2 separate regions of the Homo sapiens genome follow, and region 1 is linked to region 2. Evidence: fine-mapped expression QTL. A gene starts in region 2. The other region holds a variant in brackets. All regions are shown on one strand. Distances are from middle to middle.

The links. PIP is the estimated chance that this variant, and not a neighbour inherited with it, causes the effect.
Region 1: its variant is fine-mapped to the expression of SMAD3 in whole blood (TOPMed, PIP 0.96).

Annotation. Positions count from the first base shown.
Region 1 is chr15:67,090,594-67,098,917 of GRCh38, reverse strand. All of the region lies in intron 1 of SMAD3 (SMAD family member 3), which reads right to left. Among named protein-coding and RNA genes, the nearest start is that of SMAD3, 29 kb to the right of the region's middle. RefSeq lists enhancers at 184-685, 1,899-1,948, 4,264-5,034, 7,740-7,829. The variant ACCAT/T (reference allele first, on the strand shown) is at 3,823.
Region 2 is chr15:67,060,579-67,068,875 of GRCh38, reverse strand. SMAD3 (SMAD family member 3) reads right to left here and starts at 3,274. Exons shown (of 9, transcript NM_005902.4): 1 at 2,516-3,274. The coding sequence starts at 2,721. It overlaps SMAD3-DT (SMAD3 divergent transcript), which reads left to right and starts at 4,694. Exons shown (of 6, transcript NR_135686.1): 1 at 4,694-5,760. RefSeq lists silencers at 2,058-2,147, 2,168-2,227, 2,478-2,527, 2,678-2,837, 3,008-3,497, enhancers at 1,948-2,716, 4,256-5,026, 6,184-6,328 and a cis regulatory region at 6,250-6,263.

The sequences.
Region 1 (8,324 bases), 30 kb before region 2:
CTCCTCCACACTGGCCCCCTCAGGAACGGAGTCCACCCTCCCATCCATGTATGCCCTCCCACCGTCCCCAAATCCCCCAGCTGAGCAACAGTGGGCCCTCAGACCCCCGCTGGGGATGCGTAGGACCCTCCATGCCCACTTCCACCTGCCTTCCGGGGGCTGTGGAGGCCTCCACAACCAAAGCAAGCCTCCCCAAGTGTCCTGTGGACAGTTCTCTCCCAACTCCCGAAGCTTGTTTTCTTTAATTAGCTCACTGTGGCAGGAGAAAAACGCGGCCCCACCCTCGAAATAAGCAGATCTGGGCCTCAAATGTACTCTGTGGTTTGCCTCTGTGCTGCCAAGCTGTTCGCCAGGGAGTGACAGGCTACCGGGGCTGAGGAGGCAGGGGCAGTAAGAAACCCCTGCTATGTTGAGATAGGCCTTTTTCTTCCTAACATCTGACATTCATTTCTCAACCACAAGCTGGGCTGCACCCTTTCCTGAGTCCCTGAAACCTGCGATTGTGGTTCCAATTAGGGGACGATTCCAAATCCTGCTGGCTTGCTTGCTTGCTTGCTCGCTCGCTCTCTCCCTCCCTCCCTCCCTCCCTCCCTCCTTCCTTCTTTTTTAATCTGTCTTGGGTGGTGGGGTGGGGGGGCAGTTTAGGCACAAAGCCCAATCCTCTCATCTCACAGATGATGAACTGAGGCCCAAACAAAGTAACTGCTTCTTGGAGTCTCTCAGGACAGTAGTGAGCAGCACTTAAAGAAACACTGAAGACTCACCGTGTTAGCTCTTCCTAACACCAGTACTTAAGTTTATAAACGATTTCTCCATATGTCATCTCAGCTGGGTCTCATCCTCTAAGGCAGGCACACCCACGAATGCTCCATTTGACAGATGCGTAAACCAAGGCTTAGTAGGGAATGGACAGTCAAAGGTCATGTGACTAAGAGTGACAGTGTGAGAGGACCAGGATCCTTGAAGACCTTCAAACACTACAATTTTTCTTTCATTCCAGTAACTTCTAGAGCACAGCCTGAAGAACTACTTAGAAGTCTGAGGCAGAGGCTCCCTAGAATCGTACTCACAGAATCTTGGAAGTTAGACCTTGAAGGCCAGGATTCCTAGAGGATACTACTTTTGGTCCTAGCACCCACAGGAATTGTTTCTTCCTCCTCCCCTCATTCTTCACCATCATGACCATTGCTAGCATTGATTCAGTCCCATGGACCAGACACAATGATTACTCCTCCCCCTGCTCTCATTTCACGCTCATGACCATGCTATAAGATAATTACCATTATACCCATTTTATAGATGGGTAAACCAAGGCTCCAGGAGGCTTGAACAACCTGCCCAACATCAAACAACTAGTTAAGAGATGGAGATAAGGCCGGGCGCAGTGGCTCACACCTGTAATCCCGGCACTTTGGGAGGCTGAGGCAGGCAGATAGCCTGAGCTCACAAGTTTGAGACTAGCCTGGGGCAACATAGTGAAACTCTGTTTCTACAAAAAACAACAACAAAAAACAACAACAAAAAAAACATGAAAATTAGCCCAGCATAGAGATGTGTGCCTGTAGTCCCAAGCTACTCAGGAGGCTGAGGTGGGAAGATCGCTTGAGCTGGGAGGTCAAGGCTGCAGTGTGCCAATATCATACCACTGCCTTCCAGCCTGAGTGGTGGAGGAAGAACCTGTCCCCTACAAAAACAAAAAACAAACAAACAAAAAAAACCACAAAAAAAGGACAGAGAGATGGAGATAAGATTTGACCCAAGAATTCAGCCTCCAAGTACCCACATTTTTAACAACTACACTGCAACCAAAAGACTGAGGACTGCCTGATGAAGAAATGACTCACCCAAGGAGACCATGCCTGAGTTAAGAGTCAAACTAGGGCCTCTCTCTCAGCTTACTGCTGGATCACCTCTATACTAGGCTGCCCAAAAATTCACAAAAGTAAATGCTCAGGAGACCCCCAAAGCACCTTCAACAAGAGTATGTTTGTAGCCTCTGAAATTCCTCAACTTTTTATCTCTATCAACAGAGCCACCACCACCTGGAAGCTTGGAATCTTCAGAGCAAGCACACATGCTCACTTGCCTATATGATGCTTCTTAGCTCCGCAACCCAGGAGACAATGTGAGCAGACCAGGGATCTAGAGGCTGCACGTGCAAGACCAGCCTGAGACCTCCAGCCCCAGGATGCCAGTCAGGGTTGGCTGCATAATTTGTGGGGCCCAGTGCAAAATGAAAATATGGAACCCTTTGTGCAAAAGGCAAAAAAAAAAAAAGTATCAATCATGGTACTAAAATAGAAAGCTTTTTCTCTTTCCTCCACAGTCTCTCTCTTGATGTGTCATGGTATTTTTAATTTGCTATTTAATATTATTCTAAGTAAAGCAACATTAAAATTTTAAATTACATGAATTAGCATGAATTTTACCACTCCTATTTATATTGTGTGATGCCAGTTTTAACTGCAAATATAAAAAGCCTTTAACTAGTATGTGGAATCACCAACATTACATGAATTGTATTTTAGGACTTGGATGTGCATTTTGTGATGTACCAGAACCAGAGAAACATCCATAAAGCTAACTCAATCGTTTTTACTTCACTTCTCGCTATGTGTCCATTCTACCTCACTCTTTATGCTGCCTGAGGAGTAAGGAAGATCTGAAAGGAAAAGGCAATATGGGTGCCCTATCTTTCCTTTCCCTTCTTCCGTCATCATTTTCAATATAAGTGGTTGGTGTCAGGGAAGTGACGTGAGTAATAAAGGATATGATGGGGTTCTTTGGTCGTTGATGTTTCTTAGAATGTCATCGCCTTCTTTCTACAACCAAGACAAGTTCCAGTTAGATGGAAAGCATCAGGACTGTCAGGGCCCCTGCTACTCAGTCGCAGATGTGACATCTCACACTCACTTTGACTCTCACTCAACTCCCCCACATTGTAGGTCCGGCAGAAGTCTGTGCTCAAATGCTACATGTGAATGGGGCAGAAGGCTCAATGGGCACATGCTGCCCACATCTCCTCTATCCATGCTCATGCTCCAAAACACTAGGTCAAAGAGAAAATTATTAAGAATTTCAAGATGGGCCGGATGCAGTGGTTTACACCTGTAATCCCAGCACTTTGGGAGCCCAAGGCTGGATCACCTGAGGTCAGGAGTTCGAGACCAGCCTCGCCAACATGGTGAAACCCCACGTCTACTAAAAGAAATACAAAAATTAGCTGGGTGTGGTGGCAGGTGCCTGTAATCCCAGCTACTCGGGAGGCTGAAGCAGGAGAATCACTTGAACCCGCAGGCAGAGGTTACAGAGAGCCGATATTGAGCCATTGCACTCCAGCTTGGGCAACAATAACAAAAAAAAAAAGGATTTCAAGCTGGTGACAGCAGAGCATTAAACCAAGCATAGGGCCCTCCTGAGCATGAACTCTATGTGACTGTACTCGTCACGTGCCCATGAAGATGGCCTTGATGACAGCCACACCTGTGTAAGGACAGGCTCAAGACACACTTCCACAGCCATCCTTCCATTTGCTGGCCAGTTCACCCAAAGCCAAATTAGGTTAGGACCCCACACTCTGAGGCCCTGGGTCTCAGATATGACGGCCAAAGGATCCAATACTGAAACACAAAAAGGATCTGGGTTTAATGCTCACCCACCTCAGGACCAGATGAGCCAGAAGACTTCACTGGCCTTCTTTAACCTTTCTAAGGCTGCCACACTGTGTGACAGCTCCTTTGTCCACCCAGTAAAGCAGGGGAGGTGAGCACGCAGCCATCTTTTGATATGCTTAACACCAAGGGGAGAGGAAGGGACCAACCA[ACCAT/T]TTACCAGCTCACAGCAAGGTGGTAAACACTAAGCAATGCCTTGTACATATGTTGACTCAATCTTACAACCCTAACAGACAGGTAACATTTTACTGCTGGAGAAACTGAGGCTCAGGGAAGTGGCGTGACTTACCCAAGACCTGCCCAGTCAGCTCAGCTGACTTCTCTGGACTTATCCACATCCACGGAGACCCCCTCATGCAGCCCTGCCATCCGCCCAGAGACTGGGTTAAAACTCAAGTGCATTTAATGCAAGAAAAAAGAGTGCAACTCTTGACTCCAAACGCTCTGGAACATCAAGTCAGGAGCACCCTGGAAGGGTCTGATTAAAGGGTTAAAGCAAAGGCTCCTCTGAGACACGTTAAATGTATGTGGCCACATCTTTGCCTACATCAGTGCAGCCCCACGCATTTCCCTAAATGCCTGTAAAGCAGATCTCACATAATTATGATCTTCAGCTCGGCCCTGGCCACATTAGAAGTAATATATATTTATGGAGTGAAAAGCTCAGGTCCTGCCTCTAACACAGTTATTTACACTCATCAGGGCCTGCTCCAGCAGGCCCTGCGTTCCATGTTATCACACCCCGTCCTGCCTGGTCACAGCCCTCTCCTCAGGGTAGCAATTTTGAGCAGAGTTTGAATAAGATTGTCTCGTGCCAAGTCTGCTTTAGAAGGCAGCCAGGTAAATGCCCTCAGCCCTGCTCAGGAGGAGCCACGGGGTGGGATGGTGGGATGAGGGGCCCAGAGCATCAGCTATTCACCCAAAAGCAGGATGAACAGGAGCAGCTGGTTCTCTGGTCCCAGAAGCTTCGCCTCCCATCTTGATGCCACTTCTGGTCACAGCCCTAAGCGTAGGGGAACATCTGATGGTTGGTGGATGGCCACATCTTCTGACTCGCCGAGGTGCAGGCTGACTTCCTGGGTCCCTCACACCACAGGCCACCCCACGCAGGCCTCAGGTGGTCCCACTGCCTGCCCTGAGGACCCCTCCACAGGATTGGTGGTCAAGGGCCTGGAACACTGGAAGTGTGGGCCTGGGAAGCACCGTGGTCACACAAAGAGCCCTAAAACAGAAAATGCAATCCGGGTTCAGATTCCTTGCCTGTGTCCCCTCGGGTAAACCATGTGCCTTCTCAGAGCCTTGGCTTCCTCAGCCATCAACAGGGGGAGGCACCAAATGAGATCAACAAAGACGTCCGCACCACTTCACAGAACTCTGCAGGTGGGGGACAGTCCATCCTCTCATTGGCCCAAGAGGCTTCTTTTAGGTGCTGCCAGAGGCAAGAAGATAGGAACCACCAGCTGCCTTTGCTTCCTTCAGGTAACCGCCTCCCAACCAGTGCTACCTCGCATGCCAACACAGCGCTGCAAGTCAGCAGGCACCCCGACCCAGTTCCTCTTTCCCTTCTTAGCAGCAGCAGCTCTCTGGACTCTGAGGCAAAGTGGGCCTCTGTCTGTCCCCTTGGGATCCAGTTTGCTCACATCCTTCCTCTTAAATGATCTGCGCCTTGGCCACTTCTTGCTAGACTCCCCGCTTGACAGGGCTGCTGGGAAGACTGAGAGAGAGCAAAGTGCACAGACGACCCTAGCTTGCTACCAGTATCATCTGATGCCAGGAGCGTGACAGTCACAATCCAGCCACCCTTCCTACCTCCACTGGCAAATCCTGATTATGCACCCCTGCACTGGCAGTGGAATGAGAGGCTCACCGAGGTGGCGAGGCTGGTGTGGGCCCTGGCAGAGGTGTGGATCCTGAAGGCTTTATATTCACAGGCCCGCTAAGGTGTTCAAGGCAGTTTTTGCGTCCATCATCGCACCTGATTTGCATCAACATAGAGGTTTTACAGATAAGAAAAGTACATCTCAGAGAGGTTAAGGATATGCCCCGGAATACACAGCAAGCTCAGGGAGCCAGGAGTCCTGTCCTGACACCAGGGTTCCTTCCCCTCTAACAAGTGGCTAGACATGAGTGAAAAGATAGTAACTGTAGGGTTAGATGAGCACCATTTACAAAGACAGGGTGAGGAAGGGAAGTTAGACTATAGATTCCAAACTCTCAAGTCCAGTCTTCCTGTTGACTCAAAGCAGGCTACAAGCCTCCTAAGTGTTCATCATTGATTTTCAGACCACACAACTCAGGGATGGGCATGGGGGCCATTTTCCATGATGCAGAAGCTGGCTGTTATTGCCACACCTCCTTCCCCAAAGCTCCAGAAGACCCAACATATATGGAACATCGTGCCTGTTATTACATTTAACCGTCACAGCAACCCCATGATTTGATATTTTTAGCTGTTTAACAGAAGAAAGAAGAAACCCATTAAGAGGTTAAGAGCAAGGGCAGGCTTGGGCCTAAAGGGGCACAGCCCTACCAGTCCTGTGCCTTTTCCGCTACACCACATTCCCCTGGACAAACTCCCTCCACCACTCCTACCCCCAGCACCCTCCTCAGTATCCTGCCCCCAGCTTCCACACGGTGCATCATTGCCTATAATCATGATTGTCAAGCTCAAATGCACATCAGCAGCCCTCGGAGAGTGTACAAAATTCAGACTGCTGGGACCGCCCTCAGGGTTTCTGATCCAAGAGGCCTGGGGGCGGGGCCTGAGACTCTGCATTCCTAGTAAGTTCCCTGGTGATGCTGACGCTGCTGGCCCAGGGCCACACTTTGAGAACTGCTGATTTATAGTAATTTAAAGTGTTCACCTAACAGCTGGGGAATGGTTAAATGCGGTTCATCTACTTGATAAAATATGTGTAATTATGAAAGCCACATATAAGAAAATGCTGATAAAATATAAAATTAGAGCATCAGGCTTGCACCCTGTGCTGGTCCAAGTCCAGTTTGCCCTCTGATCCATCCCTCATCTTCCTGTGCTCTGCTGTGTCCTCCCTGGGGCTGAGCCCTGACTTTCCAGGCTCCAGATCAGGAGGCCTCCAGCAGGGTTTAAATAATAGGAGGCTCTCACAGCAAGTAGTGGGTAGGAGGGAGGGAGAGGCCACAGTGTTTCTCCCCTCTCTCCTTTTCTACCTTGGGTCGGCAATTTTAGAAGCAGCTGCAACTGCTCTAGACAGGCCCACTGGTGACCCCAACCCTGGGCTCTGGGAACACCACCTGTTCCCTTTGTCCCTCCAGCCTAAAGGCAGCGGCTTCCTCCAAGTTCTGGGTCACCTCACCTTCCCATTGTGGCTTCTCAGCTGCTTTATCACCTGTGTAACCAAGGTCCCGTATTAAATTCCCTTTGTGCTAAATACCTGATGTAGTTCCTCCTTCCCGTTTGACTGACACACTGATTACAGCAATAAGCATAAAAATGCTTATGCAAATGGACAATTCTAGAAGGCTATTACCTTCTAGAATTGAGAGCTTGGTAAACTTATGTTTTCTTTCCCCAAAAAACTTTAGAAGAGTGTCAGTTATTATTAATATATAAAACAGACACCAAATGTACAATTTAAGAGGAAACAGAGGTGAGTCTTTACGTGAAAAAGGTTGGGGAACTATGAATCCATGACAATGAATCTAAGGAAACCAATCCCTGTACTTTCATTTCTAAAAACACCTTATTTTGGAGAAACCATGGCCACAGCCACAATGATACAACGGTTTCCCCTGAAAGTACCGGGTGGTTATCTGGGGGTGAGTGACTCACTGGTTGAAGAGGTCACATCATGTATCACCGCAACACCGGATCCTTAGCCACTGCGGAAGGGCAGGCTACTGGCAACACCCCAAACCGCCTTCAGCCATTTGTTACCGTGGAGGCAGGTCCTATCTCTCCTGTCAGGCTCTGGCCTGGAAGCCATCTGGGAAATCCCTCCAGAGGAGACTGGGGCCTGGAGACGGCTGGGGGAGCAGGAATAATACGCAAAGATGTTCAAAGAATAAGGGGACTTGGTTCAGCCATGCCCACCATGCACCATAGCAATGTGTGTGCCAGGGCATGGGCAGGGCAGGGAGGAAGGTGGTATCTTCTTTTTCCACCATTTCGAGGATCTTTCTCTCCAGAGGGCACAATTAAAATCAAAAGAAACAGACTCCATGAAACCAGATGGTAACAATACAATAAATTCTCCTGGATTCCTGCACTGCACTCTAACAGCCCTGAAATAAACAGTTTCCTCCTCGGAGCTCAAGACGCAACCCTGCAGCAGGTAATCAAGTGTTCAAGTAGGGAGGGAGGGGCTTGGCCTTGGACCAAACACAGTTTGGTGGTCTGTTTATAATATTTTAGCTGAAACACTGCAAACAACAGATCGAGAGGCTTACTGCTGTCACGGGTTACTTTCAGACCCAAGTCAAAGCTGATTTAAATCCCCAGAAAACAGGGAGATGGGAGTGCTGGGGAGGGGAACTGCAGTAAGGAGAAGCATCTAGGGCTTTCAGTGAAATGTGAGTCTACCTTCCAAAATCCCAGGGGACAACAGCTCAGCCTCTAAACACTTGGAAAACCAGGATTCAGCCTATAGTGAGTGGTTCACATCAGAGCCCATA
Region 2 (8,297 bases):
ACTGCAATCTATGGGGCTTAGCAGACACATTGATATCACCAGCACAGGGCCAAACCAGCCACCTCCCCAAGACGTGGCCTTTAGTTTTCTGCCCACGACCAAAACAGCAGCAGCTGTTGCCAAGGGACACAAGGTGACCCAGAGGCGTGGGCACAAAATCCAAGGATGAAAATCCATTTTGTCTGGATCCACCCAAGCAACTGGGTTTCCCTAACTGAAAAAAAAGATGAAAAAAAAAATCTACTTTTGTATTCAGTCCTATCCAGGCAGGCAGAAGATGCCTCAGTCCTAACAAAGTCACGAGAAGGCCACAGGGCAGGTTGGCTTGAACTCTCAGAATCATCCAAAGCGTTCACACGTCTTAGGCTTCCAAAGTCTCAGCAGGACTTTGGAAGAGGAAAAGGCAGGCCAAAGGTATGGCCCCACAGAGGACAAACTCCTACCAAGGCAAGGGAAAGCAAGGCCTCTCTGCCAAGCTATCACCAGCCCAAAGATTAAAGAAGCAACCGCACATACAAAGATCCACAGGGCCCTCCCCAAGCTAACACAGCTTTAGCATTCAGCAAAGAATGTATTCAGGATCTTCAAAGTATAAAGCAGCATGGGGCAGCAGAAAGAGCACATTCAGGCAGAACCCCATGTCTATGACTCAAGCCTTTTCACCTCTCTCTTTTAAGGTTTCCTCTGCTTTAAAAATGTGATAATCTTAAGCCTAACAACCTTATCTACTTTCCATGGCTGGTTGCTTGCTTGCTTTCTGTCTTTTTTTGAGGACCTCAGAAAACCATGTGAAAGTGCTTTGTAAACTGTGAAACACTTTTCACAGCTGCCTGTTTTACAATTGATACCACTTTTTTTCTTCTGTTTCAATACATAAAGCACTTGTCTTCAATGCACCCAGGCAGATAAGGAGAAGGTAGGTTTGGCAGACCCCTCCCCAGAAAGAGAAGTAGCATACTCACCCACTCTACCCTAGCCACCCCCACGGAAGGAATACAGAAGAATTAACAACCAGAGCTGGAACCAAATCCCAGGTCTCTCTGACCATCACATCACACCACCTCCTCTGAAGTCAATTCTGGCTCCCGATCACACGCCCAGAGACTTCCCCAGACAGCACACCGCCTTCCCTCCCCCTTTATTGACTGGATCCACCCAGTTAAAAAAAATTTAAGTCCGCACTCCCACCATATGTGGCATTTATTTCCAGGGGAGGCCTGCCCTCGGTTCCCGTGGACAGATGTTGCTTTGTGCCTGCCTGACTCGCCTGGCAGCCCCTGTACAACTGCCCCAAGCAGGTGGCCAAGGATGGAGTCCACCCTGGCCCAGGAGCAGGGATGACAATCCCTTTGCGGCTGACAGTCCCTGGTGCTTTCTACTCATTCCTCGGCAGCCTGGGACCCCCAAAAGAGCCAGCCCCCAACACACACGCTCTCTCCCTTGGTTCAGCATCAAAGGAGGCTGAGAGGTAGAGACAGGAAGCCAAGGTACCCGCACCCCCAGTTCCCAGCCAGGCACATCTAAGCTAAGGAAGGCCCTGGGGGAGTGAAGTCACTGACCCCTTCTATCAGCCATCTGTGGGCTCCCGCCCGACCTAGCTAGCGCGCAACGGGAAGGATAAAGGAGATCCAGACAGATGGCAGCGCGCTTTGGGAAGGAAGGCTCTACAGGAATGCGAGGGCCGATGCGAGGCCCACTTTGGGGTGTGTTTTGTTATCTGCCCGGCTGCAGCCTGCCCCTCTCCCTCGTTCTGCACGGTTTCAAAATCTCTTGGACCAAAAGAAGGGCAAAAGAGTCGGGATGGGGGGGTGGGAGGTGGGAGAAGACCCTATTTTCCGCCACTTGTCTCTCCCATTTGGAAGTCAGAGCATTGCACTGCAACCAAAGTGCGTGCATGCTCAGGGGGCGGGAGACTGGCACAACCGAGTCTAAAAATACTCGATAAAAATGCTAATCCCGAAGGCAAAGAAAGAACGAAGAAGGAATCTGTCAATCACTAGGCTCCCGCTCCTCACCCACAGCCCCAGCTGTACGGACCGCATTCCTGTAGAGGAAAGTGGGGAGACCCGACTGAAGAAAAGAAACGCAAAGACACCACCACCTCCACGAGCGCGGGCCGCGGGGGCGGGAGGCGGCGGCGGAGGAGGGGCTCCGGCCCGCGGAGCCGAACAAAGCGGGCCTCAACTTCCAGCCCCAGCTCCCCGGAGTGGGGGCGGCCGAGTCCCGCAGCAACCCGCTCTCCCCTCCCGGAGGTGGAAAGGGAATGTGAGGTGTGGAAGCCAGAGTGCCGCGTGGAAGCCTCGGGCTCTGATCTTTGCAAATCAGAGATGGTTTTGTTTGGGGTCCCCCCACCCCCTTCCTGCCCGCGCTCTCCCACTCTCACACACACGCACCCACACAGTCTCACTCCCTCCCTCTCTCTCCCTCTTCCCATCTCCAGCCCCACTGGGTCGGCCCCGCAGTGCCAGGGGGCTGGGCCGGCGTGACCCCGGGTCCCCCCCGGGCGGGCCCCCACCTGGGGATGGTGATGCACTTGGTGTTGACGTTCTGCGTGGTGATGGCCTTCTCCAGCTCGTCCAGCTGCCCCGTCTTCTTGAGTTTCTTGACCAGGCTCTTGACCGCCTTCTCGCACCATTTCTCCTCCTGCCCGTTCTGCTCGCCCTTCTTCCAGCCCAGCAGGCGCTTCACGATCGGGGGAGTGAAAGGCAGGATGGACGACATGGCTGGGGAGGGCGCGCGGGCGGCGAGGAGCGCCCCCGGCGGGGCTGGGCTCGACGGGACGCCGGGGGCGCAGAGGGGAGCTCGGCCGGGGCCTGCCGCGGTCGCCCAAACTTCGCCTCAACTCTCGGCGAAGTTGCCGGGGCGCCGGGCCGGGCCGCGGCGCTGCAGCCTGCGGGGCTCGGCGCGCGGCCCTGCGCCCGGAGCGGCTCCCACGGCGAAGAGAAGAGCGGCCGGGCGGGCGGACGGCAGCAGTGCAGGGTCGGGAAGGCCCCGAACGCGGGGCGGAGGCGGCGGCCGCGAGACTCCAAGTGGCAGCAGAAGTTTGGGTTTCCGCACGGGGTAGCTGTTTGGGTGCCGCCTCCGGGAAGGAAAGTCCAACCCCCGGCCAAACTTCGCTCGCCTCGCTAGCTTTGATGCGCAGATCCCTCCGCCTCTGCGGCCTCACCGCCCCGCCACCCTCCTCCTCCCGGCTCGCCGCTCGCTCGCTCGCTGGCTGGGCCGGCCCGGGGCGTGCGCCGCGCTCCCGCTCCCGCCCGCTCCCAGTCTGTGTTTCATGCAAATCCGCGTGCAGCCTCCTTTCCAAGTGCTGTCACCGCCCCCTCGCCGCCGGGGCTCCCCGCCTCCTCCCCCGCGCCCCGCCACCTCCTCCCGCGGGCGCCCTGCCCGCCCCCTGCTCCGGGGAGGGCGCCCGGCCGGCCACCACCCCGCGCCCAGCACGCCCACGTGGGCGACCCGGGCGGCGGCAGTCCTGGCTGGAGCGCGCGGGACCCTGCGCGGCCCCGACCTGAAGTCGGGCGGGCGCGGGGAGGAAGTCCTGGGAAACACGGCGAGAGGGGCCTCGGGCGGGAGGGCTGAGCGCGGCCCGTGGCGTCCGCTCTCGGAGTCCACACTCGGGCGGCTCGGTTGGAGTTGCGGGCCGGAGAGGGTTGGACTCGCAGCAAGTAAGCGTCGTCCGGACGCGAGTGCACCCTGGAGAGGACCCGAGCCCGAGAGGGGGCGCGCGGAAGGCCCGGGCCCAGGAAGTTGGGGCCCGCACTTGGCCTCGCGCTTGCTGATCCCCGTCAAGGCCCTTGGCCGGCGCCGGCGCCCCTGGGCTGTTTTTATTCTCTAGTCGGTGAGATCACACCGGCCGAGAGCCTCGGGAACGTGTGCGGAGGAGGAGGGGGTGAGAAGTGGGTCCTCAGAAGTGGAGAGCTGGGGACACCAGTGACAACCTGGACAATGGCTGGAGCCAGGGGTCTCTTGAGCCTTGTGAACCGAGTGCCCGGCAGAAAATGAGCCTCAAGGACATCTGTTGAGTTCTTGAAGGAATGAATGGAGGGGCTTTCGAATTTATCTTTGAAAGAAATTTACATAACAGGGTGTTTGTTGCTGGATCTCCTGATAGAGAAGGATCGGAAATTTGATAATTGCCAATAAATGGAAGAGAGTTTTGTTTCCAAAGCAATGAACTCACAAAAAAGTGGGGCAAGACAGGAGTTTTCGGAGAGTTTGTGTATTCAAAAAAAGCAAAACAACAACAAACCAATTGGCACATTGGGGAGCTCCGCGGCTTTTCTCCCCACCAAAAGAATTCAGGGGCGTCTGCCCGCAGGGCCCTCGGCGGTTTTCAGGAGCTACTCCAGGCCCCTCGGCCTTTCTCTTGCTGCCTCCCGCAGCCGACTAGCCGGTGTCTAAGCCCTTTGTTTGTTTTTAACAGCAGGAATCTCCCACCCCCACCCCTGCTTTGTTAAAAAAAAAAAGTTATCTGGAACCCTCAAGTGGGTGGGGAGTTACAAAGCCCTGTGAGGTGTGGCGGAATCCACAGTCAGCCCAGAAGCGGCAGGGGCCCTTGCCTTGCTCCGGAGAACCGCCTCCCACAAGCCAATCCGCAGCTGCTGCTGCAGAAGTGCGCTGTGCTCCTCACCCTCCTCTCTTCCTAAATACCCGCCTGAAAAGGAGAATACGTGAAAGCCAACTGAGGCTTGACAACCTGGCTTCCGTTCCTTGCTGGTCCTCCTGTTAACGCGCTGCCGCTGTGGTCTTAGGTTTCACTCTCCTCTTCCCGTCCGTCAAGAGAGACAAGGATGACACAATCCACATTTATTGATTGCTTTCTTCATTCCGGGTAGTCCGCCTGCTGCCCTTTGATTCAGTCTTAACAGTGGTTGGTGAGGTAGATGTTCCTGTGCCTCACGTTTACGGAGGCACAGAGAGATTACATTACTTACTCAGGGTTCCAAGTGGCAGAGCTGGAATTTGAACCCAATACTTTGTTGAAGCCTCAGTCTCCGATCTTGAGACTGCACCCAGCTGCCTGGGTCACGGAAGGCAAAGATGACATCATTGATCGAGCTCTTTGCAAAACAGTTCTCTACACGGGCACACTGTTGTAACACTGCAAGGATTATTTGCTCACCTGTAAAATGGGGCTAGAGGTAGCTTCCCTCGCGATCTCCTAGGGTGGCTGTGGGAAGCTCATGTGAAAAGGTTTGCATTGCTAATGCCATGAAAAGTGGTGGAGGGAGGTCAAATAAGTTTAACACACATTGACGGAGCAGCTCTGAGTTGCAGCCCTCCTATTCAGTTCCTGAACTTCCAAAATAAAAGACTAAGGTTTTCAAGGCGTTCACAGCCTAGAGAAGCATCAAAGGGTGGGGATGAGGATGATGTGACTGAGTGGGCAAAGATGGGCAGGGGCCTTGCAGTCATCATCGTCCAGTAAAGTGTTAATCTTAACCTGAACAAGTCCAACCATTGAGAGGTAGCCAAAGAAAGTAAGAGGGGCTCAGGATCCATCAGTGACTGGCCTGGCTTCCAATCCCGGCTCTTTCTCTTCTTCCCCTTGGGCAGCGTCCGTTCTCTCCGCTGTAAGAATGGAGCAAGCGGTTCTCACTGTGCAGAGTGGTGGATCCAGAAAGAGCATTGTAACTGTCCTCCTGTAGTTCAAGTCCTTTATGTTACAGAGAGAGCAATGTCTGCTGAAGGAGAGTGATTTGCACTGTAGAGGAAGAGCGTCAGAGAGATTTGAGGATTACATGTAGTAGAAGGACCTGACAGGTACTTCACCCTGTAAAATCATGGTATGGGAAGGGGCCCTCATTCAGCCCTCTCATTTTCCTGAGGGGAGGAAATAACTAGGCAGCCAGCTAGTTAGTGTGGCAGAACCATGCTTCCCTGCTGGCATCCGTGTGACAAGAACAGCTGTGCATGCAGAAAAATAGTGCTGGACCCACCTACAAGTCTAATAAGTGCCATTTCTGGGCTAGTTCTTTCTCCTCAGGCCTGTTTCTCCAAGAGAAGTCCCTCCACTGGGGGACTAAGTCCAGTTTCAGAAAGCTCTGAGGAGGGCTGAGGAACTGATTCTTCCAGTGCTGAGAAGACCCTGCATGTTCTCTTGATCTTGACTTTGGGCAGTGAATGGGTGGGCTGCTCTGGATGGGTACAACTCTGTTCTGGCACCTGGTCTTTTGGGGCCCAGCCATACCTGCTTTTGCAGAGGTTGTCCTTGGGAGGGAAACATTAGCCCAGTTAATTTTTCACCATGGTAAGTGCAAAGTTCAGGAGAGGTGGGATGGAAGTGGAGACAGCAACTGTTTCCCTGGGAATAGTCCATCCTATGAACAGTTCACCTCGTGAATAGACACATCAGAGGGTTTTCGTGTATTTGGAGTGGCTCCCAGGTAGGCCAGCCACTCCAAATACACGAAAGAAACAAACACCTGACTTCAATTCTGATTATTTTCCCATTAGCTTAAGGGTATTTAATCAACAAGTAGTGAATCTAGAAAAAGCATTAAAATCATCTTCATCTTACACAGACAGAAAGTGATGTCTGTAAGGGAAGGTGATTTGCACTGTGAAGATAAGTAGCCAAATCAGGACTAGAACTTTTATCAGAGTGCCCTCACCTAAGAGAGAGCCTCTGTCTACAGTCAGATCTCTACCTATAGCTCTTTGTAACACCTTACACGTGTGAGCTCTTCTGTGGCACCAGAATGACCTGGGTTAAACTTCTACCTCTTCCACTTCCGGCTGTGTGACTCTGGGCACGTTCCTTAACTCTGTGTGTGTCAGTTTTCTCATCCATAAAATGTGATAATTACAACACCTTCTTAGGATTGCTGTATGGAATCAGATTAAATCATATAGAAAGCTTGGTACAAGCACATAGTAGGTTCTCAATATACATGGATGTGATTCATGCATACTATAAAGTGCTATGCAAAAGTGAGAAGCAATGAATTCCATGTACATAAAACAAATGTATAGATTTTAAACACAGTTCCAACAGAAAATAGTAAGACACAGAGGGAAAGGAATAGCATAATGCTACTATGTAAAACAAATTACATATACACAAAATAATTATATACATTTTGAAAGAAGTTATACAAATAAAAAGATATACATTGAACCACTTCACATCCATTAGGATGGCTATTATCTTTTTTTCTTTGTTTTTGAGATGGAGTTTCGCTCTTGTTGCCCAGGCTGGAGTGCAATGGTGCCATCTTGGCTCACTGCAACCTCCGCCTCCCGGGTTCAAGCAATTCTCCTGCCTCAACCGCCTGAGTAGCTGAGATTACAGGCATGTGCCACCCACGCCTGGCTAATTTTGTATTTTTAGTAGAGACGGGATTTATCCATGTTGGTCAGGCTGGTCTCAAACTCCTGATCTCAGCTGATTCCTCCCACCTTGGCATCCCAAAGTGCTGGGATTACAGGCGTGAGCCACCGCGCCTGGCCAGCTATTCGCTTTTAAAAAACAGAAAATAACATGTTGGAAAGGATGTGAAGAAATTAGAATCCTTGCACATTGCTGGTGAAGATGTGAAGTAGTGCTGCCTCTGAGGAAAATGCTGTGGTGTATGTATGGCAGTTCCTCAAAAAACTGAGCAGAATTACCATATGATCCGGTCATTCTGTTTCTGGGGATATACCCAAAAGAATTGAAAGCAGGGACTACGAGTATTTCCACACCCATGTCCGTAGCAGCCTTATTCACAACAGTCAAAAGGTAGAAGTAACTCAAGTGTCCATCAATGGATGGGTGGAAAAACAAGATGTATTGTAGTCACACAATGGAATTTTTAAATTTTATTTATTTATTTATTTAGAGACAGAGTTTCGCTCTTATTGCCCTGGCTGGAGTGCAGTGGCGCGATCTTGGCTCACTGCAACCTCCACCTCCCAGGTTCAAGTGATTCTCCTGCCTCATCCTCCCTCGTAGCTGGGATTACAGGTATGTGCCACCACACCCAGCTAATTTTGTATTTTTAGTAGAGATGGGGTTTCACCATGTTGGCCAGGGTGGTCTTGAACTCCTGACCTCAGGTGATCTGCCCGCCTCGGCCTCCCAAAGTGCTGGGATTACAGGCATGAGCCGCTGTTCCTGGCCCATACAATGGAATATTATTTAGCTTTAAAAGGAAGGAAATGCTGACACATGATACATTGTGGATGAACCTTGAGAATATTATGCTAAGTGAAATAAACCAGCCACAGAGGAACAAAAATTGTGTGATTCCACTTACAGAAGTACCTAGCATAGTTAAATTCTTAGAGACAGGAAGGAGATAGTGGTTGCCAAGGGC